Homo sapiens: one gene and its partners. The protein of the gene in region 1 interacts with the protein of each later gene in a biochemical or structural test. Each region holds a gene or a part of one and is shown in the gene's direction. Other genes may lie near its edges.

Region 1 (7,023 bases):
ATAAAAAGGAAATCATTGCCAACATCTAAATAAATAATTAATTGCACTAAAGAAATTTCATTTAAATCTCCACATATTTTATTACATGTAGTGGTCAGCACATAGTGATCTGATTATAGTCTTTGATGAACTGATTTCCTGTCCTTACAGTAGAAGGGACAAGAATGTTGATCACACCAGGAACAGTTGAGGTTACTTTTTCATCCGGGAACTAAAATGATTTGTTACTGAGGCCAGAAATGGAGGAAAGAAACTTTAAGTTTCTAGAAATGGAATTATAGGAACTTATTTTTCAGATCACTCACCTGCCTTTACAACTTTGTCTTGAGTCACTCCTGCTCACTCTGTTAGTTTACCTGGATGCTTTTTTTTTTTTTTAACTGACCACGGTGGCCAAAGCAGCCATGGCCCCGGCCAGTTTTCCATTTTTTTTCCTTATTCTGAGATGGAGTCGCCCAGGTTGGAGTGCAGTGGCGTGATCTCAGCTCACTGCAACCTCCGCCTCCCGAGTTCAAGTGATTCTCCTGCCTCAGCCTCCTCAATAGCTGGGATTACAGGCACCTGCCACCACACCCAGCTAATTTTTGTATTTTTAGTAGAGACACAGTTTTACCGTGTTGGCCAGGCTGGCCTCGAACTCCTGACCTCGGGTGATCCGCGTGCCTCTGCCTCCCAAAGTGTTGGGATTACAAGCATAAGCCACCATGCCCGGCCTGCTTTTCCATTCTTAAGTGTCCATGCTCTATTTTAGAGCCCTTAAATAGCCTAGTCTTTTTTGCCTAGAATATTCTTCACCTCTTCTCTTCCTTGGTTTTGTCTAACCCAGCACTGTCCAATCTGAATGTAAGCCAGTACAAACACGTATATAATTTTAAATTTTCTTTTTCCTTTTTTTTTTTTTTTGTTTTTTTCAGAGACGGGATCTCGCTTTGTTGCCCAGGCTGGTCTCGAACTGGCTTCAAGTGATCCTCCCACTTTGGCCTTCCAAAATGTTGCGATTATAGGCGTGAGCCACTGTGGCTGGCCTGAAATTTTCTAGTATCCACATTCATAAAGTAAAAAGAAAATAAAAAGGTGAAATTAATGTATTTTATTTAACCTTATATAGTCAAAATAGTTTTACTTCAACATGTAATTGATGTAAAAAAAAAATGAGATATTTTACATTCTGTCTTTGTACTATCTTTGAAATTCTGTGTATTTTACACTTACAGCACATCTGGATTCAGACTAGCCACATTTCAAGTGCTCAGTAGTCACATGTGGTTAATAACTACTTTATTGTGCAATGTAAGACTAACCCATAGTTGAGCTTTAGATCTTATCTTAAACTTGCTCAGATGTTTTCAACTTGAAAAGCACGAATCAAATATTTTCTGTTGGAAAGCAGTCATGGCTTATACTGGTCATGTATTGCCCTTGGCTTCTTTGAGCTTTGACACTGTTTATCTCTTCACACTACAGCCAAGGAAGATCAGCACCTACCATAATGTTTAATATAGATGCCGTGAACCCATCACAGAAAAACATATGCAGGGTTTCAAATGTGTTTGGGTGGGGTCTTTGATTACATGCTTGCCAGTTTCTCGGCCTTGCATTTTCACAAGGAGTTATACCCAGAGAAAATTTTACTTTCTTGGGGCTCTGTTTTGAAAATAGTTAATGATTTTTAATGATTTTATATAACCCTGATTTTTTTTTCTCTATATTTAAGTCAGTGTATATGTGTCTCTGGATATGAGAGAATGTACTTCTTAAAAGGACCACAGAAGACAAAGGCGATCTATATTGTCTTCTCTTAGAGTGAAATGCTTGAGACATCATATTAGGCTTTCAGTGGGATACCTGTTTTGTTTCATAATATATTTTGAATGTCAGATGAAGTAGGATATTGAAATCCTATAACAAAAACTTATGAAAGTATTTTCTAAGTCCTATCTTTTATTTATCCAATGAATATATCCTGAGCATCCTGGTAGGCACCAGGATAAAACAATGAGTGAGATCGGGCAGGTCTTTACCTTTTTTTTTTTTTTTTTTTTAAAGACAGAGTCTCTGTCGCTCAGGCTGGAGTTCAAGTGATTCTCCTGCGTCAGCCTCCCAAGTAGCTGGGACTACAGGTGTGGGCCACCTCACCCGGCTCATTTTTTGTATTTTTATGAGAGACAGGGTTTCACCATGTTGGCCAGGCTGGTCTCAAACTCCTGACCTCAGGTGATCCATTCGCCTTGGCCTCTCAAACCGCTGGGATTACAGACATGACCCATTCAAACTCCTGGCCTCAAAAAAACCACCCCCCTTGGCCTCCCAAAGTGCCGGGATTATAGGTGTGAGCCACCATGTCCGACCTCAAGTCTTTACCTTTAAGAAACACACTCTTAGGCCAGGCGTGGTGGCTTACACCTGTAATCCCAGCACTTTGGGAGGCCAAGGCGGGCAGATCACAAGGTCCAGAGATCGAGACCATCCTGGCTAACAAGGTGAAACCCCGTCTCCACTAAAAATACAAAAAATTAGCTGGGTGCGATGGCGGGCGCCTGTAGTCCCAGCTACTTGAGAGGCTGAGGCAGGAGAATGGCGTGAACCCAGGAGGCGGAGGTTGCAGTGAGCTGAGATCGCGCCATTGCACTCCAGCCTGGGTGACAGAGTGAGACTCCATCTCAACAACAACAAAAAAAAGAAACATACTCTTAGGCGGGGCGCGGTGGCTCATGCCTGTAATCCCAGCACTTTGGGAGGCTGAGGCGGGGGGATCATGAGGTCAGGAGATCCAGACCATCCTGGCCAACACAGTGAAACCCCATCTCTACTAAAAATACAAAATTAGCCAGGCGTGGTAGCACGCACCTGTAATCCCAGCTACATGGGAGGCTGAGGCAGGAGAATCACTTGAACCTGGGAGGCAGAGGTTGCAGTGAGCCGAGATCCTGCCATTGCACTCCATCCTGGACAAAAAGAGCAAAACTCTGTCTCAAAAAAAAAGACACTCTTGGCCAGGTGAGGTGGGTCACACCTGTAAACCCAAGACTTTGGGTGGCTGAGGCGGGCAGATCGCTTGAGCCTAGGAGTTCAAGACCAGCCTGGGCAACATGGCGAAACCCTGTCTCTACAAAAAATTAGCCAGGCATGGTGGCTTATGCCTGTGGTCCCAGCTACTTGGGAGGCTGAGGTGGGAAGATCCCTTGAGCCCGGGAGGCAGAGGTGACAGTGAGTCAAGATTTTGCCACTGCACTCCAGCCTAGGTGAGAGAGTGAGACCCTATCTCAAAAAGAGAAACACTGTTTATTTTTTATTTTTATGTATTTTTTTGTTAGAGACAGGGTCTCACTCAAGTGCCCAGGCTGGAGCGCAGTGGCACAGTCATAGCTCACTGCAGCCTTGACCTGGGATCAAGCAGTCCTCCTACCTCAGCCTCTAAGTAGCTGGGACCACAGACGTGCACTACCACACCTAGCTAATTTTTTTTTTTTGGAGGCGGAGTCTCACACTGTCACCCAGCTGGAGTGCAGTGGCACGATCTCGGCTTACTGCAGTCTCCACCTTCTGGGTTCAAACAATTCTCCTGCCTCAGCTTCCCGAGTAGCTGGGATTACAGGTACCCGCCACCACACCTGGCTAATTTTTTGTATTTTTAGTAGAAATGGGGTTTCACTATGTTGGCCAGGCTGGTCTCGAGCTCCTGACCTCATGATCACCCATCTCGGCCCCCAAAGTGCTGGGATTACAGGTGTGAGCCACCGCATCTAGCTGCTAATTTTTTAATTTTTTGTAGAGATTGGGTCTTGCTGTGTTGTCCAGGCTTGTCTTGAACTCCTGGACTCAAGCAATCCTCCTGCCTTGCCCTTCCAAAACACTGAGCTTACAGGTGTGAGCCACTGCCCCTGGCCACACACTTTTATTATAGACACTGAGGAGAAGTCTGAGTGCCATAACTTAAAAAAAAAAAAAGGATTTATATGGGAAAAGAACTTAGCAAGTAAAGAAAAAAATGGATTTATCATTTTTATAAAGACAATTTTTGTTAAAGATGAAAGTAAGAATCTAGATTTAGCAACGGTTGTATTTTAATAAATCTTGTCTGACCTTAAATGAGTAATTATATACATAGCTCTAAGTAAATAAGAATGATTATGGCTGTGCCCTAGTCGGATTCTGAAGACTTCCTCTTTTAAGTCCATATTGATTCTGCATGCCCTCCTGTACCTTTGTATTTATTTTATTTTACACTGTCTCCTTCCTTGGTTGTATTAAGGAGTTGCTGAAAAATCAAATATGTGAGGTTTTATTTTCTCTATTACCTCTGGTAATCTTATTCCTGATGATGGGGAATCTTCATCATCTTAGACCCAGCCTTGGCCCAGAAGATGTTAGCATCTACCTAAAACTACAGATCCATCAGTATTTTGGTTTGGTTTGGTTTGGTTTGGTTTGGTTTGGTTTGGTTTGGTTTGGTTTGTTTGAGACAGAGTCTTGCTCTGTTGCCTCGGCTGGAGTGCAGTGGCATGATCTCGGTGCACTGCAACCTCTGCCTCCCAGGTTCAAGCTATTCTCCTGCCTCAGCCTCCTGAGCAGCTGAGACTGCAGGTATGCACCAGCATGCCCAGCTAATTTTTGTATTTTTAGTAGAAACAGGGTTTCACCATGTTGGCCAGTCTGGTCTCTTTAACTCCTGACCTCGAGTGATCCACCCGGCTCGGCCTCCCAAAGTGCTGGGATTACAGGCGTGAGCCACCACGCCCGGCCCCGTCAGTGTTTTGAAAGTGTAATCTGTCTACTCTTGAGATGAAGCCATTGCTTCCTTAACAGTTCTTTGGTGGTACAGCGTTTTTATCAAAGCTTAAAGGTCCCCAAGCTTTATAAATCACATGATAGGCTTCTGCCTTGGCAGGGGTGTGACATGAACCCGTTATGTGCCACTGTCAACCTGTTCTGGGTTGACAGTGAACAGTTCCTGCCCGTTTAAACTAACTGGACTCAACCCCTGTACTTACTCTCTGCAACAAAAGCTGGAAAACTTTTGTATTGAGCACATTTTACACTAATATTTAATCATTTTCCCTGCTATATCCCTTCTTATTTGGTACTCTAGATTGCAGTAATATCCCTCCTATACATTTTTGTTCTTTGTTAGGAATTTTGTAGTAAAGAATGAATCTGGCCGGGCTCGGTGGCTCACGCCTATAATCCCAGTACTTTGGGAGGCCAGGACGCGTGGATCGTGTGAGGCCAGAAGTGCAAGACCAGCCTGGGCAACGTGGGGAAACCCCATCTCTACTAAAAATACAAAAAATAGCCAGGCATGGTGGCGCATGCCTGTAGTCCCAGCTACTTGGGAGGCTGAGGCGGGAGAATCACTTGAACCTGGGAGACAGAGGTTGCAGTGAGCCAAGATTGCACCAGTGCCCTCCGGCCTGGGGGGACAAAGCTAGACTCTGTCTAAAAGAAAAAAAGGAATGAATCTTGGTCGGATGCAGTGGCTCACGCCTGTAATCTCAGCACCATGGGAGGCCGAGGCAGGCAGATCACTTGAGGTCAGGAGTTAAAGACCAGCCTGGCCAACATGGTGAAACCCCGTCTCTACTAAAAATACAAAAAATTAGCTTGGTATGGTAGTGCACACCTGTAATCCCTGCTACTTGGGAGGCTGAGGTGAGAGAATAGCTGGAACCCGGGAGGTGGAGGTTGCAGTGTGGAGATTGTGCCACTGCCCTTCAGCCTGGGCAACAGAGCGAGACTGTCTAAAAAAAAAAGAATGAATCTGTATTTGTCCCGTATTTCTTCTATTTATAGAAATAGTTTTTGTTTGCTTGTTCAAGTACCAAGAGCCTAATTTGCACTTGGCATAGAAAGACCAGGTCCCTGCTCTGTGGGAGCTTTGAGTTGAGGGGGAAGGAGGGAGGTCAGGTATGTAAAGAGATACTCATAATTGATGTGTTAAGAGTGCCTGAAGGAGAGGAAAATGACTCAGGGTGGAAGAGTCAGGAAAAGCTTCAGTCAAGAAGTAGGGATTTAAGCTGGGTCTTGAAGGGTGGGGAGGACTTGAGAGTGATAGGAGGAGGAGCATGTTCCAGGTATGGCAGGGACGAAGGAAAGGACTCTACCGTGAAGGGAGCCTGAAGGGTTCTTTAGGTTAGTAGTGCCATGGCCACAGTCAAAAGAAAGACCCAGATCAAATTTAAACACGATAATGTACCTTGAAACAGTTTTGATTTTCACTTTAATAATTGTGGCTCTTATTTAGCTAATTTTATAATACATAGTCTTCCTCTAAGTTAGAGGATCCAGCTTAAAGGACATCATATTTACTTTTCTCTGCCATTCTTTTAATTATAGTAGTGTATTCCAGTTTCAATAAGTTCTTAAATACACTGCATAGACCCTAGATCCCTTTTTTGTTTGTTTTTAAGATGGAGTCTCGCTCTTTCACCCAGGGTAGAGTGCAGTGGCGCGATCCCAGCTCACTGCAACCTCTGCCTGCCAGGTTCCAGCGATTCTCCTGCCTCAGCCTCTCTAGTAGCTGGGATTATAGGCATGCGCCACCCACCACACCCGGTTAATTGTTTGTATTTTTAGAAGAGACAGAGTTTCGCCATGTTGGCCAGGCTGGTCTCGAACTCCTGACCTCAGATGATCTGCCTGCCTCGACTTCCCAAAGTGCTGGGATTACAGACATGAGCCACCACGCCCGGCCGAGCCACCGTGCCTGGCCTTTTTTTTTTTTTTTTTTTTTTTGATAACAAGGTTTTGCTCTGTCACCTAGGCTGGAGTGCAGTGGTACGATCATGGTGCACTGCAGCCTCAACCGCCTGTGCTCAAGCCATTCTCCTGCCTCAGCCTCCTTAGTAGCTGGGACCACAGGCATGTGCTACCACAACTGGCTAATTTTTTTATTTCTAGAGATGAGATGTTGCTGTGTTGCCCAGCCTGGTCTTGAATTCGTGGGCTAAAGTGATCCTGCTGCCTTGGCCTCCCAAAGTGCTGGGATTACAGGTGTGAGCGACTGTGCCTGACCCAATTCTTTAT
Region 2 (7,136 bases), on another chromosome or scaffold:
ACAGAGCAAGACGCCATCTCAAAAAAAAAATAATTAAATAAATAAATTAATTAAATAAACCTGAGACTGGGTTTAATGTTTGAGCGATATTTCCAAGGTCGTGGCAGAAACTAGATTTGAATTTAAGGTTCTTCTCTGCCATGTGATGGAAAACCTAACTCAAACTGGCTTAATTAACGAAGAAGGAATTTATTTTTACTTATTTATTTATTTTTGAGATGGAGTTTCACTCTTGTTGCCCAGGCTGGAGTGCAATGGCGTGATCTTGACTCACCACAACCTCCGCCTCCCAGGTTCAAGCGATTCTTGGGCCTCACCCTCCCGAGCAGCTGGAATTATAGGCATGTGCCACCACGCCCGGCTAATTTTGTATTTTTAGTAGAGACAGGGTTTCTCCATGTTGGTCAGGCTGGTCTGGAACTCCTGACCTCAGGTGATCCACCCTCCTCGGCCTCCCAAAGTGCTGGGATTACAGGTGTGAGCCACGGCGCCCGGCACGAAGAAGGAATTTAACCTGGTTGTGGTGGTGTGCACGTGTGGTCCCAGCTACCTGGGAGGCTGAGGTGGGAGGACTGTTTGAGCCCAGGAGTTCAAGGCCAGCCTGAGCAACAGGAACGGGGGCAGGGAGGGAGGAAAGGAAAATAAACTAAAAAGGCTGGGCGTGGTGGCTCACGCCTGTAATTCCAGTACTTTAAGAGGCCAAGGCAGGAGGATCACTTGAGGCTGAGAGATCGAGACCAGCCTGGCCAACATGGTAAAACCCCATCTCTACTAAAAATTCAAAAATTAGCTGGGTGTGACAGTGCACGCTTGTGATCCTAGCTACTTCGGAGACAGGTGGGAGGATTGCTTAAGCCTGGGAGGCAGAGGTTGCAATGAGCTGAGATTGCGCCACTGGACTCCAGCTTGGGTGACACAGAGAGACTCCATCTCAACACAAACGAACTAAGAGGCAAGAATTCATGAGCTTGCATCATTGGAACATCCAGGGGAGGTCAGGTAACAGCATGATGCAGGATCACTAATAGGATTATCAACGTTTCCCCTCTCATCAGCCGGCTCGGCTTTCCTGTGATGCCGCCTTTGTTCGGAGGCCCCGTGGTGACACCATGACCCCGTAACTCCAGCCCCAGGTCCTTCCAGCTCAGCCACCCCAGCACTGTGATCCCAGAGAAATGTCCCAGAGCTGAATCTCATTGGACGTCAGGAGTCACATGCTTGTTCCTGAACCAATCATTGCAGCCCAGGGTGGGGGCCCTGGGAACTGATGGGATGGCCCCTCCCTGCAGCCAGGGCTTGCGTCAGTCCAATTCGAACCCGTTCCCACAGAGTAGGGAGCCCCCAAGCAGGCAGGTGGAAGCCCCTGGTGTCCACCGCTCCCGGGTGCTGTGAGCCTGAGCCTCCCTGGGGGTCGGGGCCCTGTGGGACCAGCTGGAGGGGCTTGAAAATCTCCCCAACCCAGGCCGGGCGCGGTGGCTCACGCCTGTAATCCCAACACTTTGGGAGGCCGAGGCGGGCGGATCACGAAGTCAGGAGATCAAGACCATCCTGGCTAACACGGTGAAACCGCTTCTCTACTAAAAATACAAAAAATTAGCAGGGCGTGGTGGCATGCGTCTGTAGTCCCAGCTACTCAGGAGGCTGAGGCAGGAGAATCACTTGAACCCGGGAGGTGGAGGTTGCAGGGAGCCAAGATCGTGCCACTGCACTCCAGCCTGGGCGACAGAGCAAGACTCCTTCTCAAAAAAAAAAAAAAAAAAAAAAAGCGAGAGAAAGAAAACCTCCCTCACCCACACAGTGCTTCCTGGGATGTGGGTGTACGGAAGAAGAGAGATCTTGGGAGCCCTTAGAGAAGGAATCGTGGTTAATTCTAATTAGCATTAATTTACCCATGAGCTGCTGCCTGCCGGCTCCATGATGCTGGCAATATATCCACGACCTGTGGCACGGAAGAGACTGAGGCTCACAAAACCCTGGGAACCTTGGTGAAGGGGCCACAGCCAGAAGGCCCCACTAGTCCCGAGACCCTCCTTTTACTCCAGGCCCCCAGGGTGCCGGGCAGAGGGGCCTGAGGGAGGAGGCCCAGAGGCCCTTACGGGTGAGGACGCCTCGGCCTCGGCCCTGGACAGCTCTGGAAGTGACCGCTCGGCCCAGAGCTCTTTCTTGGATCCCTCCCTCCCTCTCCACTCCTGATGCTGTTTTCCTTTCCCCAGACAGGTTTGCCTGCTGGTCCTCTTCCGGGGACCAGACTCATGAAGCCGGGGCCAGGTGTTGGGGCACCTGCGGGACAGAGTGGCCCTGGTCCCAGACTGGTTTTTGTTTTTGGTTTTTTTTTTTTTTGAGACGGAGTCTCTGTCGCCCAGGCTGGAGCGCAGTGGCGCTATCTAGACTCACTGCAAGCTCCGCCTCCCGGGCTCACGCCATTCTCCTGCCTCAGCCTCCCGAGTAGCTGGGACTACGGGCGCCCGCCACCACGCCCAGATAATTTTTTGTATTTTTAGTAGAGACGGGGTTTCACCATATTAGCCACAATGGTCTCGATCTCCTGACATTGTGATCCGCCCGCCTCGGCCCCCCAAAGTGTTGGGATCACAGGCGTGAGCCACCGTGCCCGGCCTGTATGTTGATGCAGCTGTGTGTACCCAGGGCATAGCAACAATGCCACTGGCACAGTCCGAGGGCAGGGCCACCCGTCACGGGCACGACTCAGGGGAGGCTGGGCTGCCCCGTCCTCACCACGGCCAGTTCTCCCGACCAAGCTTCACAGCAAGGAGCATGTGGGTGTCTGGGCAGCCACTGAGCCAGGTCAGAAGTCAGGTGGGGTCACAGTGATGCCCGGAATCAGCTGGGGTCAAGACTCAGGTGGGCTGGGCGCGGTGGCTCATGCCTATAATCCCAGCATTTGGGAGGCCGACGCAGACGGATCCCTTTATTAGTCCAAACTGCATCCTCCCCTTCCTTTCAAAACCTAACAACACACTTGAGGTCAGGGGTTCGAGACCAGCCTGGCCAACATGGTGAAACCCCATCTCTACTTAAAATACAAAATTAGCCGGACGTGGTGGCGGGCACCTGTAATCTCAGCTACTCGGGAGGCTGAGGCGGACACTAGCTTGAACCCGGGAGGCGGAGGTTGCAGTGAGATTGTGCCACTGCACTCCAGCCTGGGCCACAGAACGAGACTCTGTCTCATTTAAAAAAAAAAAAAAAAAAAAGACTCGGGTAGGACAAAGGTCAGGCTGGGAGGAGGGCACAGCCAGGCTCGGGCTCAGCTTGGGGTGGGGGCTCCGTGGGGCTGGCGCCTCTCCCGGGTCAGGTGCTGAGCCGATGCTGGCCGGCGTAGGCCTCTTTCCCAGTTTCTCTGGGGGGCAGGAGCACCTTGCCAACCTCTGATGGCTCCAGCGCCTGCACTCGCCTCACACCACATGGTGACTTCAACGGGGACCAGGGAAGCCCTCGCCCCTCCCACCCCTCAGAGCCCTCCCCGACCTCGCCCACTTCTCAGAGCTCCCGCTGTCGGGGGAACCGAGGCAGCGCCGCGCCTGGAAGCCAGGTCTGCGGATCCCGCCTCGCTCCCGCCCCTTCCTCCCTTCCGCGTGGCCAGCGCGACCCTAGGACAGACTTCGCGCCCGTCCCCTGCACAGACGGGGAAACGGAGACGGGGACGCGGGGTCGCGCCGGATGGACCGGCCCTGCCCCTCCGGTCCCGGTCAGGACCCCGCGCCGCGCCCCGTTCACCGCCCGCGGCCCCGCCCCGCGCCGGCACGTCACAAAACAACCCCAAAGCCGGGGGACCGGGCCGGTGACGGCGCAGAGCAGCCCTGCCCGCCTCCTTGCGCACAGCGTCCGCGGTGCTGGTCGAGCAGGGGGCGACGGCGGCGGCCTCGGGGATCGGAAGAGCCCGGGGCTGCGCGCTCGAACCCTCCCTCCCGGCGGAGGCGCTCGGCGCCGTAGGCGGGACCGGGGCCGGGACTCCACCTCCCGGCGTCCCCTGCGGCCGGGCGCGCAGGCGCAAGTCGGACCTGGCCGCGGAGCGCAGGCGCAGTCGGGGCCAGGCGGTGCGCGCAGGCGCAGCGGGGGGCGGGGCGCGCGGGCCCGGCCAAGGCAAGCGCCGGTGGGGCGGCGGCGCCAGAGCTGCTGGAGCGCTCGGGGTCCCCGGGCGGCGGCGGCGGCGCAGAGGAGGAGGCAGGCGGCGGCCCCGGTGGCTCCCCCCCGGACGGTGCGCGGCCCGGCCCGTCTCGCGAACTCGCGGTGGTCGCGCGGCCCCGCGCTGCTCCGACCCCGGGCCCCTCCGCCGCCGCCATGGCTCGGCCGCTAGTGCCCAGCTCGCAGAAGGCGCTGCTGCTGGAGCTCAAGGGGCTGCAGGAAGAGCCGGTCGAGGGATTCCGCGTGACACTGGTGGACGAGGGCGATCTATACAACTGGGAGGTGGCCATCTTCGGGCCCCCCAACACCTACTACGAGGGCGGCTACTTCAAGGTGAGCGCGGCGACCCCCGCCCGGGTCCCGGAGCCCACGAGCGACCTCGGGCGCCGGGAACCAGCTCCCTGCCCCGCGGTCCTAGCGCTGTTGCTGGGCGGGCCCCGAAGCCTCCTGGCTTGGGCTCGTTTCCCTTCTATGGCCACGTTCCCCCACCCAGCTCTGCCCGGCCCCCTCCTCGGACCGTCTCGGGGACCTTCAGCCTCTGCTGCAGTCCTCGAAAATCCCCAGTTCCCTTCAAGGCATCGTCCGGTCCCCTGTTAGGCTCTTGGCCCCCGGAGGGGTGGCCGGGGGCCCTCCCTGTAGCATCTGGGCGTGGGGCTCTTGCCCACCTCCTCCTTGGCGGGGGCTGGACCCCGGCTGCCTCCCCCTCCGCCCCTGCGAGAAAGAGGGAGCGGAGCCCAGGCCGCGCCGGCCTTTCAGCTGCCCTCCCCGCCCTCCCCGGAGGAGACAAAGAGGCCCCCCCAGACCCCGTAGCTGCTATTGTTGGGGAGCTGGGCCCGTGAGCGGGGGAGCGAGGCCAGCCTGGGGGTGGCTGGCGCGGCCACTCGCTCAGTCTCCAACAAAGGCCCGGATGAGCCTTGGCAGCCAGGACCCGCCTGGAAAGCGGCCACCCTTGCCAGTAGCAGCCGGCCAGGCGCCCTGGGCTCCATCCCCTGCTTTATGTAACCTGCGCCCTCGGGAAGGCCGAAGTAGGGGCGTGCCTCCCACCTGCTCCCTGCAGCTCTCTCCAGGCCTCCCGGCTCGGGCCCGCGTCCCGGACCCCGACCTCAGAAGCTCCGGGCTCGCTCATCCCAGCTGGTCTTGGCCTTTCTCAGAGTCCACTGAACAGGTGGCTTCTTGGGACCCAAACCCCGAGTTCTGGGCCGTTTCTTCTGCCCTCTGGCGGTTTAATTCCAAGCAGTTTCTGGATGTTTTTGTTGTTGTTGGGAGCGGGGAGGCTGTTTCTGTCTCATGTGAAAAGGACTCAGGCCAAAACCAGGGCAGTTTTCTTGATCTCACGATCCAGACGTGACCTTTGACTTCTTTTAGCGTTCAGGGACCTCGTTCTTGGGGCCAGAGGGACAAAGCGAGGGGCCCTGTGTGAGCGGTGGGGAACGAGCACCCTGTCCAGGAATCTCCCCCTCCCACCGTCACTTCCTGCCAAGAGCCTGGACACGACACGACACTGCAGGGCCCGGCCCGCTCTGCCCCGGCCAGCTGCGGGCGTGGGGCCGAGGGACCGATGCCTCCCGCACGATATGTGTCTGCTCTCCGAGCTAATTAGTGTCTGAACCGCACCCGCTCAGCGGCTGTGAGGGCAGCAGCCTGGTCTGCTGGGGGCGATTCCTGAGCAGAGAGTGGGACGCCCGTGGGTTCTGCATCTGGAATCCTGCGTCCCCACACAGGGAACAGAGTTTGGGTCTCGAGGTTGCCAAATGGTTTTAGCAGCTCCTCCGCCAGCCCCTTCTGTCTGCTTGGGGGAGCAGCTGGCTGAGGAGCCGCAGCCCCACCTCGAAGCCAGGCCTGTGAGGCGGCTGCTGTTCTGGAAGGAGGGGATGGGGGTTTCTGGCTGCTGTGCCCACCAGACCGGTTGCCAGGGATTGTGGGCAGAGCTTCCTGGGCCAGCATTAGGGGATAATCCGGTTTTCCGGATTTCCCAGGGAGGGGGCCTCTAGACATCTGCCACAGGGTCAGTCCTCAGAAGCCAGTGTTGAGACGGGGGTGCTGCCACCCACGAGGACTCTCCCTTCCCGCTGTGCCTGGGAGGGAGTTGGGGGAGCGTGGAAATACAGAACCTGCTGAGTGCCCAGGGCCGCTGCTGCCCAGCCACTGCCTGCAGCTGCTGTTCCTTCAGGAGCCAAAGTGAGCCCTGGGGCAGGGGCCGCCAGAGAGAGCCCTCCACAGCCGACTTGCTGTCTGCCCTTGGCAGGGCGCTTTCCTTTTCTGAGCCTGGGTTTGCTCCGGGGAAAAGACATTCTTAGAGGTGCCCAAAATAAGAGGCTCATTGGGACTTGGTGGGGTTTGGTACAGATGAGGCCTTGGCTGTTGTCAAGGATTGCCGCCTGAAACCCAGCACCAGGCTTGGGGGGCCTGAAGTCTTGGGGAACCGCAGGACAGTTCTGAGACTGAAGTTCCAGCCTTGCTCTGTGGCCGCGGCCAAGTCACTTGCCTTACGGGGCACCAGTGAGTTCCCTGTCAAACAGAGGACACCCCCCAAGACACCCCGCGTGCCCTCCCTGTCCAGGAGGGGCCCGTCCACGATCCAAGACCCCCAAAGTGCCCTGCCTGTCCGGGAGGGGCCTCGCCCACAATCCAAGACCCCCGAGTACCCTCCCTGTCCAGACCTCGCCCACGATCCAAGACCCCCTGAGTGCCCTCCCTGTCCAGACCTCACCCACGATCCAAGACCCCCTGAGTGCCCTCCCTGTCCAGACCTCGCCCACAATCCAAGACCCCCGAGTACCCTCCCTGTCAAGGCCTCGCCCACGATCCAAGACCCCCGAGTGCCCGCCCTGTCCAGACCTCGCCCACGATCCAAGACCCCCGAGTGCCCTCCCTGTCCAGACCTCGCCCACGATCCAAGACCCCCGAGTGCCCTCCCTGTCCAGACCTCGCCCACGATCCAAGACCCCCGAGTGCCCTCCCTGTCCAGACCTCGCCCACGATCCAAGACC
Region 3 (7,295 bases), on another chromosome or scaffold:
GCCAGGTTGGTCTCCAACTCCTGACCTCAGGTGATCCACTCACCTCGGCCTTCCAAATTGCTGGGATTATAGGCGTGAGCCACCACGCCTGGCTGTTGTTTACTTTTTGACTATTCTGTCCCATTAGATGTTACTGTCATGAGGTAGGAACCTGGTCAGTGTAGTTTACACCTAGACCTTGAGTCCTAGGATTGTGTCTAGCTCATAGCAGTTGCTCAGTAAATGTTTGTTAAATAAAGCAATAGTTAGACAGTTGGGTGTGCAAGCGTTCATTCAGGCTTGAGGATCAGCCAGGCACTAAAATGGTGAGAGAAGGAGACAAACAGCCAAGTTTGTTGAGGGCGTATGAAGAGAAGGGTTGTAGTAATGGACTACTCTCTAAGCTCAGAAGAGAAGGAAGAGGAGAACAGGAAGGAAATGACAGATAGTAAAAAAGTGGTAAACAGGGCTGGACGCGGTGGCTCATACCTCTAATCCCAGCACTTTGGGAGGCCGAGGTGGGCAGATCACGAGGTCAGGAGATTGAGACCATCCTTGCTAACATGGTGAAACCCCATCTCTACCAATAATACAAAAAAAAAGAGCCAGGCATGGTGGCACGCGCCTATAGTCCCAGCTACTCGGGAGGCTGAGGCAGGAGAATCACTTGAACCCGGGAGGCGGAGGCTGCAGTGAGCCGAGATCGCACCACTGCACTCCAGCCTGGTTGACAGAGCGAGACTCTGTTTTAAAAAGAAAAGAAAAAAAAAAGTGGTACACAGAATGGGGTCTTGTTGGTGTGGAAGAGCTGTGTGGCGTGAACGCTAAAGCCAGTAAGCTGGAAGGATAAGGAATGGTGGTCAGGGTGCGTGGCTTGAAACCAAGTACTGGGGTGTGGTGGAATTTTGGGTGGCGAGACTGTCCCACGGGAACACGGAGAGGCCAGCTGGTGGGAAGGGAAGGAGAGGAAGTCAAGTGGTGAGAGGCAGGGGTACCGGACGGGTCATTCATGTGGGTAATTAGGTCCCCAAGGTGGAGGGCTGGAGTAGAATGAAGAGAAGGGCTCTGAGGCAGGAGGAAAAGTCCATGATGAATGGGTCTGCAGGTCACAGCACCAAAGGGGAGTGGCAAGTGCTGCAGCTGGATGGCATTAACCTCAAAAGCAAGAGGGCCCAGGTGCAGTGGCTCACGCGTGTAATCCCAGCACTCTGGGAGGCCAAGGCGGGAGGATCGCTTGAGACCAGTTTGAGACCAGCCTAACCAACAAAGCGAGACCCACTCCTTGGACTTGGTCTGTCATACCAATGGCACCCAGTCACCCGGGTCAGGAGAGTCACCTGTGGTGCTCCCTGCTCTTTCCTATATCCCATAGATCACCAAGGCCTACATATTCTTTGTTTTTTCGTTTTTTGTTTTTTTTGAGACGGAGTTTCACTCTTGTTGCCCAGGCTGGAGTGCAATGGCACAATCTCAGCTCACAGCAACCTCCCCTTCCCGGATTCAAGCAATTCTCCTGCTTCGGCCTCCCAAGTAGCTGGGATTACAGGCATGCACCATCACGCCCGGCTAATTTCGCCTTTTTTTTTTTTTTTTTTTTTGAGACAGAGTCTTGCTCTGTCGCCCAGGCTGGAGTGCAGTGGTGCGATCTCGGCTCACTGCAACCTCTGCCTTCTGGGTTCAAGCGATTCTCTTGCCTCAGCCTCCCAAGCAGCTGGGACTACTATTAGCTGGCCACCACGCCCAGCTAATTTTTGTATTTTTAGTAGAGACGGGGTTTCACTATGTTGGTGAGGCTGGTCTTGACCTCCTGACCTCGTGATCCACCTGCCTTGGCCTCCCAAAGTGCTGGGATTATAGGAGTGAACCACTGCCCTAGGCCCTAATTTTGTATTTTTAATAGAGACGGGGTTTCTCCATGTTGGTCAGGCTGGCCTCGAACTCCTGACCTCAGGTGATCTGCCCGCCTCGGCCTCCCAAAGTGCGGGGATTACAGACGTGAGCCACCTCGCCTGGCCACCAAGGCCTAAATATTTTATGGACACTCCTTAATCCAAGTCTTAGTTACTGCCACAATCTCCATAAGGGTCTCCAGGCTTTAAAAATTTTTATTAAAATTTTAAAATGTTTATTAAAAAAATATTTTGGGCTGGGCATAGTGGCTCATGCCTGCAATTCCATCACTTTAGGAGGCTGAGGCGGGTGGATCACTTGAGCCCAGGAGTTCAAGACCAGCCTGGCCAACATGGTGAAACTCTGTCTCTACCGAAAATACAAAAATTCTCCAGCCATGGTGGCACAGGCCTGTAATCCCTGCCACTCAGGAGGCTGAGGCACGAGAATCACTTGAACCAGGGAGGCAGAGGTGCAGTGACCTGAGATTGTGCCACTGTACTCCAGCCTGGGCGACAGAGGGAGACTGTTTCAAAACAAAACAAAACACACTTTTTTGTAGCGATAGGGTCTTGCTCTGTCACCCAGGCTAGTCTCTAGCTCCTGGCCTCAAGTGATCCTCCTGCGTGGAGTTTCCAAAGAGCTGGGATTACAGATGAGAGCCACCACAGCCTGCAGGGCACTGGTCTTGACCCTCCCTCCCTCATCAATTCTCTGCAGCCACAGCAAAACATTCAAAATGCAAGTCTGCTATTTTTCTACTCCTAGTTAAAACTTTTCAGGGGCCTCCCACTGTTTAAGGATTAGGTTCAATTTCTAAACCTTTATCCAGCCCTGATCTTTCACCAGATTTGGAAATTATTACAAAAAATAAATCTTTTTTTTTTTTTTTTTTACAAAAAATAAATCTTAAGAAACTAGGAATAGGCCGGGCACAGTGGCCCTTGCCTATAATCCTAGCATTTTGGGAGGCTGAGGCAGGCGGATTGCCTGAGTTCAGGAGTTCGAGACCAGCCTGGGCAACATGGTAAAACCCCATCTCTACTAAAATACGAAAGAAAATTAGCCTGGCCTGGAGGCGTGCGCCTGTAGTCCCAGCTACTCAGGAGTCTGAGGCAGGAGAATTGCTTTAACTCGGGAACCTGAGAGGCAGAGGTTGCAGTGGGCCAAGATCACGCCACTGCACTCCAGCCTGGGCGACAGAACAAGGCTGTCTCAAAAAATAAATAAATAAATAAATAAAATAAAAAAGAAAGAAACTAGGAATAGAAGTAAATTTCCTTGATTTGGTAAAGTGAAATATCAAAATGGTCCCTTTGGTCTATTTGATAGGGGGCAGTGGTTCACACTTGTAATGCTAACACTTTGGGAGGCCGAGTTGGAAGGACTGCTTGAACCCAGGAGTTTGAGACCAGCCTGGGCAACACAGAGAGACCTCTGGCCCCCCCCTCCTTTTTTTTTTTTTTTGTGAGACGGAGTCTCTCTCTGTCGGCCATGCTGGAGTGCAGTGGCACCATCTCGGCTCACTGCAATCTCTGCCTCCTAGGTTCAAGCAATTCTCCTTTCTCAGCCTCCCTGGTAGCTGGGAGTACAGGCGCCTGCCACCAGGCTGGGCTAATTTTTGTATTTTTAGTAGAGACCAGGTTTCACCATGTTGGCCAGGATGGTCTCGAACTCGTGACCTCAGGTGATCTGCCCACCTCGGCCTCTCAAAGTGCTGGGATTACAAGCATGAGCCACCGCGCCCCGTCAAACCCCCCGATCTCTATAAAGCAAATAAAAAAATAGCAGGGCATGGTGGTGTGTACCTGTAATCCCAGATACTAAGGAGACTCAGATGGGAGGATCCCTTAAGCCCAGGAGTTCCAAGCTGCAGTGAGCTATGATCACTGCACTCCAGCCTGGGCGACAGAGAGAATTGCCGTCCATAAATGATAATAATAACAGGGCCGGTCTCGGTGGCTCAATAATAATAGGGCCGGACGCGGTGGCTTTTTTTGTGCACTCTTCATGTAAAGTGAGTTATCATCATATATTGCCTCTATTTTGATGTTTGGTTAAAATGGGGCACACCAGTACTAACTTCGGCTTTCTAACAATTCCTACTTCGCACACCATGTGGCAGTGTTAGATGGCTTTTGGGCGCTCGCCAAGGACTAGACATCTACCACTTCTTCTGGCCTCTTCGCTCCTATATCCACTGCTTCAATCCAGAGGCTGTATTTGACCCTCTGCGACCTCTTTGTCATGGCGTCCGCGGGGCGTCTACCAGCGGAGGCTTGGGCTGGCAGCCGGGCGTCGACCTTCCCAAAATGGCGGCGGACGGGACAACTGCGCTCAAGGGGCGGGGTTCCGCCGCCGGGGGCGGGGCGGGAGGCCGAGGGGTCGGGCTAGCGGGCGGGACGCTTCCCAAGTCGGCAGTCTCAGCGCGCCTGCGCCGAGCGGCCCTGCGCGCAGTGAGGCAGTGGCGGGGGAAGGCACCGGTGGGGCCGACGGGCGGGTTGAAGGAGGGAAGCGGGCGAGCGAAGTCCCAGTGCGCGCCGCGGCAGCCCGGGCACCCTCCCCTTCCGGGCGTGAGTCGCTGTGAAAAGAGCTGAAGCGAGCGGACTCGCACCGGCAGCGAGGCGCCGCTCCCGCCGCCTCAGCCCGGCCTTCCTCGGCTCCGGCGCTCCGGTCGCGGGGCCCGGGTTCCTCGGCACACCCCGCTCCAGCCGCCCCCAGAGCCTGTCCCCAGCCCTTCGGAAGCCCCGGCGCCAGCCCGGGCCCTCGGCAGGGAGGATGACGGAGCTGCAGTCGGCACTGCTACTGCGAAGACAGCTGGCAGGTGAGCAGGCGGGCGGCGGGGCGCCGGGCCCGGCCGCGATCGCGGACAGCCGCAGCCCAGTCCCTCTTCTCCTCCCGGGCCAGCGGCCGTACTGCCGAAGGGGCCCGGGCCTGCGAGGGTGGGGACCTCGAGGCTCCGGTCCCGGCCGGGCCCAGCCGTTCTCGCCCGGCTCTTGGAGGGCACTGGGGGCGGGGACGCGACCCAGCTCCGGCCCAGGGACTGGGCCTGGCGCCCGGGGGGTCGGAGAGGAGGAGGTCCCCTCCCCCACCGTTCTGTAGGACGTTGCGGGGGAGGGGCTGTGTGCGGGTCCCCAGGCCGGGGCCGCCAGCTTGGAGGGGCGGGTCCCGGGTTCAGGTGCTGCCGGGGCCGCCGGACCTTCGGGGCCGGCTGGAGCGTCCGGACCCAGTGCGGCTGCGAGTCCCCGGCTCGGTGTCTGAGGGCGGGCGGAAGGGACCGGCCCTGGCGGGATAGGTGAGGCGCACAAAACTTCTCCCCGGGCGGCGCTGGGTCCGCGGAGTTGGGGCCGACAACAAAAGCGCTGGCCTCGGCGGCCTCCACGCGGGCGCGAGGGTGCCGGAGACCCTGGCGGAGTGCGGATCGCCGCCTCGCCTGCCTCCGCCTGGCACGGGCTCCGGCTGCGCCGCCCGGCTGGGGGAGGGTAGGAGCGGGCCGCGGGGAGAGCCGCTCGCTGGCCGGCTCCGGGCTTTGTGCTCGCCGCGATTCCGGCTGCTGCGCAGGCCTGCAAACCCCGGAGCTGCGCCCGCAGGCTCTGGCCCGGGGCGGCGGCCGGGTCGGCCTCCCCGAGGAGCCTGCGGCCCCCCTCCCCCATTGTCCCGGCCTCCGGCCGTTTGCGGCTTCCAGGTTGACTTTTTAGGGGGTTGGCTCCTACTCTGCTAGGACTGTGTGCGCGGAGCATGCGCAGTGGAGACGTCCGTGTGCGGAGTGGAAGGGGGGAGGCGGGTTGGTGGCTTCACAATGCAGCCCCACGTGCTGCCAGATTTAAAGAGAAATGAACCAGCACTTACCCCTGCTGTACAACACCCGGCGTGTGTCATTCTCAGTTCAAGCGATCTTCCCCCTACCCACTCTAAAACCAGTAGCCTCTAGCCCTCAGCAGAAGCCAAAGACTGGAGTGATGAAATCTGTTTTTGAAATACATTTACTAAGAGTTTGAGGTGTTCGTTAAATCACCTTTATGGCTTCTTAAGGAAAAGGTTGTCAGGGGTTCTTACAGATTGTATAATTGGGTTTATTATTAGACCATGAGCAAGCAGGTTTGGACAAGTATTAAAGTTCTAGATGCTCAGGGGGAGTTAGCTTGCAGTAAATGGAGAAGTTCTAATGATACTACAGGATACTCATAAAAATTATGTGCTGGAAAAGCACTGAGGCCGGGCGCGCTGGCTCACGCCTGTAATCCCAGCACTTCGGGAGGCCGAGGCTGGCGGATCACCTTAGGACAGGAGTTCAGGGCCAGCCTGGCCAAAGTGGTGAAACCCCCGTCACTACTAAAAATACAAAAAATTATTCGGGCGTGGCGGAGGGCGCCTGTAATCCCAGCTACTCAGGAGGCTGAGGCGGGAGAATTGCTTGAACGCGGGAGGCATCGTTGCAGTGAGCTGAGATCGCGCCATTGCTTTCCAGCCTGGGCAACAGAGCGAGACTCTGTTCAAAAAAAAGAAGGGCCGGGCGCGGTGGCTCACACCTGTAATCCCAGCACTTTGGGAGGCCGAGGCGGGCGGATCACGAGGTCAGGAGATCGAGACCATCCTGGCTAACACGGGGAAACCCTTTCTCTACTAAAAATCCAAAAATTAGCCGGGCGTGGTGGCGGGCGCCTGTAGTCCCAGCTAATCGGGAGGCTGAGGCAGGAGAATGGCGTGAACCCGGGAGGCGGATGTGCAGTGAGCCGAGATGGCGCCACTGCACTCCAGCCTGGGCGACAGAGCGAGACTGTGTCTCAAAAAAAAAAAAAAAGAACTTTATTGCATTTTTTTTTTTTTTTTTGAGGCAGAGTCTCACTCTATTGCCCAGGCTGGAGTGGAGTTGCGCGATCTCGGCTCACTGCAACCTCTGCCTCCTGGGTTCAAGTGATTCTCCTGCCTCAGCCTCCCGAGTAGCTGGGATTACAGGCGCGCGGCACCAAGCTTGGCTAATTTTTTGTATTTTTAGTAGAGATGGGATTTTACCGTGCTGGCTAGGCTGGTCTTGAACTCCTGACCTGGTGATCCGCCTGCCTGGGCCTCCCAAAGTATTGGGATTACAGGCGTGAGCCACCGTGCCCGTCTGCATCTTTTTTTTTTTTTTTTTTTTTTTTTTTGAGACGGAGTCTTACTCTGTTGCCCAGCTGGAGTGCAGTGGCGCAATCTCGGCTCACTGCAAGCTCCGCCTCCCGGGTTCACGCCATTCCCCTGCCTGAGCTTCCCGAGTAGCTGGGACTACAGGCGCCCGCCACCACGCCCGGCTAATTTTTTGTATTTTCAGTAGAGACGGGGTTTCACTGTGTTAGCCAGGATGGTCTTGATCTCCTGACCTCGTGATCCGCCCGTCTCAGCCTCCCAAAGTGCTGGGATTACAGACGTGAGCCACCGGGCCCGGCCTC
Region 4 (7,023 bases), about 19 Mb from region 1:
AACGGGGTTTCACCATGTTGGCCAGGCTTGTCTCAAACTCCTGGCCTCAAGTGATCTGCACATTTCAGCCTCCCAAAGTGTTGGGATTACAGGCATGAGCCACTGCGCCCAGTCTGTTTTTGGCTTTTTTGAGACAGGTTCTCATTCTGTCACCCAGGCTAGAGTGTAGAGGTGTGATCATGGCTCACTGCAGCCTCAGCCTCCTGGGCTCTTGTGATCCTCCTGCCTTAGCCTCCCAAAGTGTTGGGATTACGGGCATGAGCCACTGCACCCAGCCAAATCTGCTTCTCTTGAGCTTTGCCCATGTGTCAGGCATGTAGGACTTTATAGTCCTTATCTCTCATCATAAACTCTGGGTACAGGCTGTTGCTACTCCCATTTTACAGATGTACAGGAACATTCTCAGACTCTTTAAGCTAGGAAGAGGCAAAGTCTGAGGCTAGACCTGCTAACTTGGGGCCAGATGGCCTCATTCATGCTTCACCCCAGCTCCTCGGACAGGACCTGGCCCACAGTGGGGAACAGGGGAGGTTGGTCAGTCCTGGACAATCAGTGAAGACCTTTAGCAGATTTCACCAACCAAAAGTCATGCAGGAAAGTGTGCGCGCGCGCGTGTGTGTGGTATGTGTGTGTGTGTGTGGTGTGTGTGTGTGTGTCTTACTCTGTTGCCCAGGCTGGAGTGCAGTGGCACAATCTTGGCTCACTGCAACCTCTGCCTCCCAGGTTCAAGTGATTCTCCTGGCTCAGCCTCCCAGTGTGCCACCACACCCAGTGAGGGAAAGCTATTTTTACATGGCTCAAGCAGTGTAAATGACAATGATGTTTACTTACTTCCCCCCACCACCACCACCATTTAATTCTCCTCTTGAAAACTAAAAGCTGGCTGGGTATGGTGCATCACTCCTATAATCCCAGCACTCCAGCACTTTGGGAGGATCACTTGAACTCAGGAGTTTGAGGCCAGCCTGGACAACATAGTGAGACGCCATCACTATAAGAAATAAAAAAATAGCTGAGTGTGGTGGCATATGCCTGTAGTCCCAGCTACTTGGGAGGCTGAGGTGGGAGGATTGCTAGAGCCCGGGAAGTCAAGGCTGCAGTGAACCGTGATTGCACCTCTGCACTCCAGCCTGGGTGACTCCCCACAGATGAATATGCTGACAGTGGTTTCAGCTGCTCGGTGGTGATTCAGACCTGGACGCGTGGCTTCAGTAGCCCTGGGGCCACACTGCCTGCCCGCAGCCTCCTGTCTTGCTCTATGCTATTCCTTCCAAGTCCCTGCCATCTAGTCTTTAGTCCTCTCTGCCTGGGAGGCCTCTTCCACTCCTCAGCCTTATGTCATCTTATCCATCCTTTAAGGCCCTTGCTCCATGCCTCCCCTCCCAGGGCAGGGCTTGGATGTAGGAGAATGTGGAGAACTGGCGCACGCCAGCCTTGCTCCCCAGCAGAGGAGCTCTGTTTACTGGAGTGCGTACTTAGGCCACGGCTTGAAGATATGGGGCTGGGGTGTAGGGCTGTCAAGATTGTTCCTGGGGCCAGGTGCAGTAGTTCACTCCTGTAATCCCAACACTTTGGGAGGCCGAGGCCGGCAGTTCACCTGAGGTCAGGAGTTCAAGACCAGGCTGGCCAACATGGTGAAACCCCATCTCTACTAAAAATACAAAAAAAAAAAAATTAGTCGGGCAGGGTAGCGGGTACCTGTAATCCCAGCTACTTAGGAGGCTGAGGTGGGAGAATTGCATGAACCAGGGAGGCAGAGGTTGCAGTGAGCTGAGATCGCGCCACTGCACTCCAGCCTGGGCGACAGAGCGAGACTCCGTCTTAAAAAAAAAAAAAAAAAAAAAAAGATTGTTCTTGGGCTCTCTGTGAAGCTTGGATTTCTTTGGGTTGGGTGTGCCATGGCAAGTGCCATGGCAGACCTGGGTGAGGGAAAAGGGAGTACAATGGGAAGGGCTTCCCCAGCTCTGGAGATAGGTAGGGTTGGGGAGAGGCCAAAAGACTCTTTGCTGAGTCATCTCTCAGGCTCCTGGGGCCATCAGAGTGTCCAGGCCCCAAAGGTGGTTTTCGGGTGGTTCTAGGGGCAAGGGGCTAGGGCATGGTGCTGGCCCTGCCTGGTGATCACCTGTTGAGTGACCAGCTCAGGTCCCCAGGGTCCAGCCATTGAGCTGACTACTGTTTCTACCCTGGGAAGATTGAGCTGGCCAGGACTTGGCATCAAGGCAGTTATTTGGACTTCTAGTACTCACAGTGTATTCTGGTTGGGTTGTAACTTACCTCTGGTACAACTCTACTTGTATCTTCAGAAAAGATCAAGAGATATTTGCAAAAACATAATATGATAAAGGACTGTCTAAAGGACAAAGAACACTTAAAACTCTATAATAAGAAAACAACAATAAATAACACCGTGCATCTCTTAGAATGACCAAAATCCAGAACACTGCCAAATGCTGCTGAGGACGTAGAGCAACAGGAACTCTCGCTCTTTCCTGGTGGGAATGCAAAATGGTGCAGCCACCTTGGAAGACAAGTTAGGCGGTTTCTTTCATTTATTTATTCATAAAATCTTTTTAACAAAGAAATTGAGTCTCTCTCTTGCCCAAAATGGAGTGCAGAAGCGTGATCACAGCTCATTGCATTCTCAAACTCCTGGGCCTAAGAAGTCCACCCTTCTTAGCCTCTGAAGTAGCTGAGACTACAGGCACATGCCACCATGCCAGGCCAATATATTTATTTTGTTATTATTTTTTGAGATGGAATCTTGCTCTGTCACCCAGGCTGGAGTGTAGTGGCGCAACCTCAGTTCACTGCAATCTCTGCCTCCCGGGTTTAAGCAATTCTCCTACCTCAGCCTCCCAAGTAGCTGGACTACAGGCGTGCACCACTACGCTCTGCTAATTTTTTTGTATTTTTAGTAGAGACAGGGTTTTACCACGTTGGCCAGGCTGGTCTTGAACTCCTGACCTCAAGTGATCTACCCAGCTTAGCCTCCCAAAGTGCTGGGATTACAGGTGTGAGCCACTGAGCCTGGCCCAGGCTAATATATTTAATTTTTTTTTTTTTTTTTTTTTGTAGAGATGGGGTCTTGTTATGTTTCACAAACTGGTCTTGAACTCCCGGCCTCAAGTGATCCTCCCTCCCTGGCCTCCCACAGTGCTCAGATTACAGACATGAGTCACTGCTCCTGGCCCAGTTTGGCAGTTTTGTTTTGTTTTTTTTTTGAGACTCAGTCTCGCTCTTTCGTCCAGGCCAGACTGCAGTGGCGCAATCTCCACTCACTGCAAGCTCCGCTTCCCAGGTTCACACCATTCTCCTGCCTCAGCCTCCTGAGTAGCTGGGACTACAGGCGCCCACCACCACGTCCAGCTAATTTTTTTTTGTATTTTTAGTAGAGACGGGGTTTCACTGTGTTAGCCAGGATGGTCTCGATCTCCTGACCTCGTGATCCACCTGCCTTGGCCTCCCAAAGTGCTGGGATTACAGGCGTGAGCCACCGCGCCCGGCCGGCAGTTTCTTACAAAACTAAACATATGTCTTACCATTGGATCCAGCAATTACATTCCTTGGTATTTAGCCAAATGAATTGAAAACTTGTATCCACACAGATGCTTATAACAGCTTTATTCATTAATTGCTAAGGTTTGAAAGCAACCAAGATGTCCTTCAGTGGGTTAATGGATAAATAAATTGTGGTATATCTAGACAAATGACATTCAACACTAAGAAGAAATGAGTCTGGGTGCAGTGGCTCACACCTGTAATCCTAGTACTTTGGGAGGCCGAGACAGGCAGATCTCTTGAGCCCAGGAGTTTGAGACCAACCTGGACAACATAGCAAAACCCAGTCTCTATAAAAATACAAAAAAATTAGCTGGGGGTGGTGGTGCCTATCTGTAGTCTCAGCTACTTGGGAGGCTGAGGTGGGAGGATTGCTTGAGCCTGTGAAGTCAAGGTTGCAATGAGCCAAGATCACGCCACCATCCAGTGGGCAACAGAGCAAGACCCTGTCAAAAATAAATAAGTAAGTATGAAGTGGGGGAAAAACAAGTAACGGCTGGGCACAGTGGCTCACGCTTATAAACCCTGCATTTTGGGAGGCCGAGGCAGGCAGATCACTTGAGGTCAGGAGTTCAAGACCAGCCTGGCCAACATGGTGAAACCGCATGTCTACTAAAGATACAAAAATTAGCTGGGCATTGAGGCGGGTGCCTGTAATCCCAGCTACTTGGGAGGCTGAAGCAGGAGAATTGCTTGAACCCAGGAGGCGGAGGTTGCGGTGAGCCAAGATCGTGCCATTGCATTCTAGCCTGGGCAACAGACTCTGAAAAAATAATAATAATAAAAAGAACAAATAGCTTCTAACGACAAATTTATTTCTCACTTATTGAGGCTGGGAAGTCTGAAGATCAAGGTGCCAACAGATTCAGTGGCAACTGAGGGCCGGCTTCATGGTTTATAGATGGTGCCTTTTCACTGTGTCTTTATATGATGGAAAGGGCAAGGCAGTTCTCAGGGGCCTCTTTGATAAGGACACCAATCCCATCATGACCTAATCACTTCCCAATGGTCCCAACTCCTAATACCATCACATTGGTGATTAGGTTTCAACATAAGATTTTTGGGGAGATACATTCAGACATAGCAGCTACATATTGCATGATTCCAGCTATCATGTCTGATAACCACACAAAACCTATAGAATGTGCAACACCAAGTATGAGCCCTAACATAAACTAGGGAAGCTGAGTGGTAATGATGTGTTAAGGTAAAAGGTTCATTGGTGGTAACAAATTTGCCCCTCTGGTGAGGGATGCTGATAGTGGGAAAAGCTGTGTGTGTTCAGGGGCAGGGGGTATTTAGGAATTCTCTGTCCTTTCCTCTCAGTTTTGCTGTATACCTAAAGGTGTTCTAAAAAGTAAAGTCTATTTTTTAAAAAAGTATGAAGAGACCAGGACATCAATCTCAAGCCCCTTCTCAGTTTAGCAGATAGCTTGCTCTAGAAATACTTTTGGGTGGCTGGGTTGTCCTGAAGGTGGCAGGGCTTCAGTTGATACTTGAATCCCTTGAAATAAATTGATTTTTCAGATAAACAATTAAAACATTCCTGTCTTGGCCATAGGTTTATGAACCATGGTGTGTTCATTTTGATCTCTCTTTCCTTCCAGGACAACCCTCCATATGATAAGGGAGCCTTCAGAATCGAAATCAACTTTCCAGCAGAGTACCCATTCAAACCACCGAAGATCACATTTAAAACAAAGATCTATCACCCAAACATCGACGAAAAGGGGCAGGTCTGTCTGCCAGTAATTAGTGCCGAAAACTGGAAGCCAGCAACCAAAACCGACCAAGGTAAGACATGTGCCTGTGTCTTCCTCGGAGGGGGTCTTTGGGGGTGCTGCTCTGGGGTGGGGGCTTCTGGTACCAGATCAGACAGAATCCAGAGAATCTTTCAGGTACACGAAAAATGTAGCTGAGGTCCTGTCAGACCTTGTGGGAATGGCTCATCTCAGCTGAACTTTTGACCTGTATAGGGTTTGAGGAGGCCTTTCCAGTGCTCAGCCCTGGGCTGCCATCCACAGTGGGAACACACATGGACAGACAAGCCCAGTGGCTTGCTGCTGGTGCAGAGAGGTGCAGGCACTGGTCCCTGGAAGGGATGAAGGACTGTGGGGCTGCCTACAAGGGGAAGGGAGAGTGGGATTTAAGGTGGCCTCATGCAGTAGTTAGTGCCTGAACTCAGACTTGAAGGAGGAAAGGAGGTTGGAGAGGGCCTTCCAGGCTATAGGAAGGGCATGGGCTAGAGCCTAGTTGCTCGGGTGATGTGAGGGGAGGGACAGAGGCAGATGTAAGGGCAGTATTCCCAGATGAAGGCACGTAGTTGGCTTTAGTGGGCCTGGGATTCCCTGGAGTTGGATGTGGCTGTGCGTGGTGCACATGTCTGTGTGTGGCTGTGTGAACATAAACATGCTCATTCTTCTGGGAAGAATATTTGAGTCAGTATTGTGGTTGTCCTCCCTTTTGTCCCCTAGAAGTGACTAGTTTGTTATGGACTGTGTCTGGTTTTCATTTAATTCTAGACTTTCTTTTGAAGTCCTAATCTCATATTTTGATGGCTTCCTTTTAAGTACCTAAACCAGTATAAAGTCTGTTTAGATTAGAGTGGATGAAGCTGGCACTTGAGAGGCTGCAAGTGGAGGGTTTCTTTTAGGGGTGCTGCTCTAGGGTAGGGGCTCATGGGTCCTTCCTGATGCCAGATCAGACGGAGTCCAGAGAACTCCTACCTTACCAGGTGCACGCAAAGTATGGCTGAGGTGCCACCAGTCCCTGTGGGAATAACTCAGCTGAACTTTTGACCTGCACAGGGATTGAGGAGGTCCCTTGTTTTAGTGATTGAAAAAAGCCTTGGAAGGTGGAGTTCAAAGCCTTGCGCAAGAAAAATCAAGCCTCACTTGTTGGAAGTAATCACCATGAAAGGTGCCCATTAGACTCCCACACTGAGTAGAAGAAAGGAGTGGGTGCTAAACATTCAGTCAGGGCAGAACAGTCTCTAGTGGGCTTGGTCCTTGTTTGTGTACAAGCTGATGTTTATAAAAGCTTGACACAGTTCTTCTCAGTGCCTGGTTTTTTCTTTTCTTTTCTTTTCTTTTTTGGAAACGGAGTCTCGCTCTGTCACCAGGCTGGAGTGCAGTGGCGCGATCTCTGCTCACTGCAACCTCCGCCTCCCGAGTTCGCGCCATTCTCCTGCCTCAGCCTTCCGAGTAGCTGGGACTACAGGCACCCGCCACCACGCCCGGCTAATTTTTTGTATTTTTAGTAGAGACGGGGTTTCACCATGTTAGCCAGGATGGTCTCGATCTCCTGACCTCGTGATCCGCCCGCCTCGGCCTCCCAAAGTGCTGGGATTACAGGCGTAAGCCACCGCACCCAGCCGATTTTTTCTTTTCTTTTCTTTTTTTTTTTTTTTTTTTTTTTTTTTTGAGACGGAGTCACCCAGGCTGGAGTGCAGTGATGCCATCCCAG

Evidence for each region.
Region 2: the proteins of RBX1 (region 1) and CDC34 form a complex in vitro, tested with the Homo sapiens proteins (84 studies listed by BioGRID and IntAct, with this or other methods).
Region 3: the proteins of RBX1 (region 1) and UBE2G1 form a complex in vitro, tested with the Homo sapiens proteins (8 studies listed by BioGRID).
Region 4: the proteins of RBX1 (region 1) and UBE2L3 form a complex in vitro, tested with the Homo sapiens proteins (13 studies listed by BioGRID, with this or other methods).

The regions. Positions count from the first base shown.
Region 1 is NC_000022.11:40,954,373-40,961,395, forward strand, and holds part of RBX1 (E3 ubiquitin-protein ligase RBX1), read left to right. Parts: intron 1-7,023. UniProt on the Homo sapiens protein: E3 ubiquitin ligase component of multiple cullin-RING-based E3 ubiquitin-protein ligase (CRLs) complexes which mediate the ubiquitination and subsequent proteasomal degradation of target proteins, including proteins involved in cell cycle progression, signal transduction, transcription and transcription-coupled nucleotide excision repair.
Region 2 is NC_000019.10:527,630-534,765, forward strand, and holds the start of CDC34 (ubiquitin-conjugating enzyme E2 R1), read left to right. Parts: upstream 1-4,130; 5' UTR 4,131-4,302; coding exon 4,303-4,479; intron 4,480-7,136. UniProt on the Homo sapiens protein: E2 ubiquitin-conjugating enzyme that accepts ubiquitin from an E1 ubiquitin-activating protein, and catalyzes its covalent attachment to other proteins by an E3 ubiquitin-protein ligase complex. In vitro catalyzes 'Lys-48'-linked polyubiquitination.
Region 3 is NC_000017.11:4,363,669-4,370,963, reverse strand, and holds the start of UBE2G1 (ubiquitin-conjugating enzyme E2 G1), read left to right. Parts: upstream 1-4,288; 5' UTR 4,289-4,647; coding exon 4,648-4,693; intron 4,694-7,295. UniProt on the Homo sapiens protein: Accepts ubiquitin from the E1 complex and catalyzes its covalent attachment to other proteins. In vitro catalyzes 'Lys-48'-, as well as 'Lys-63'-linked polyubiquitination. May be involved in degradation of muscle-specific proteins.
Region 4 is NC_000022.11:21,605,692-21,612,714, forward strand, and holds part of UBE2L3 (ubiquitin-conjugating enzyme E2 L3), read left to right. Parts: intron 1-5,165; coding exon 5,166-5,352; intron 5,353-7,023. UniProt on the Homo sapiens protein: Ubiquitin-conjugating enzyme E2 that specifically acts with HECT-type and RBR family E3 ubiquitin-protein ligases.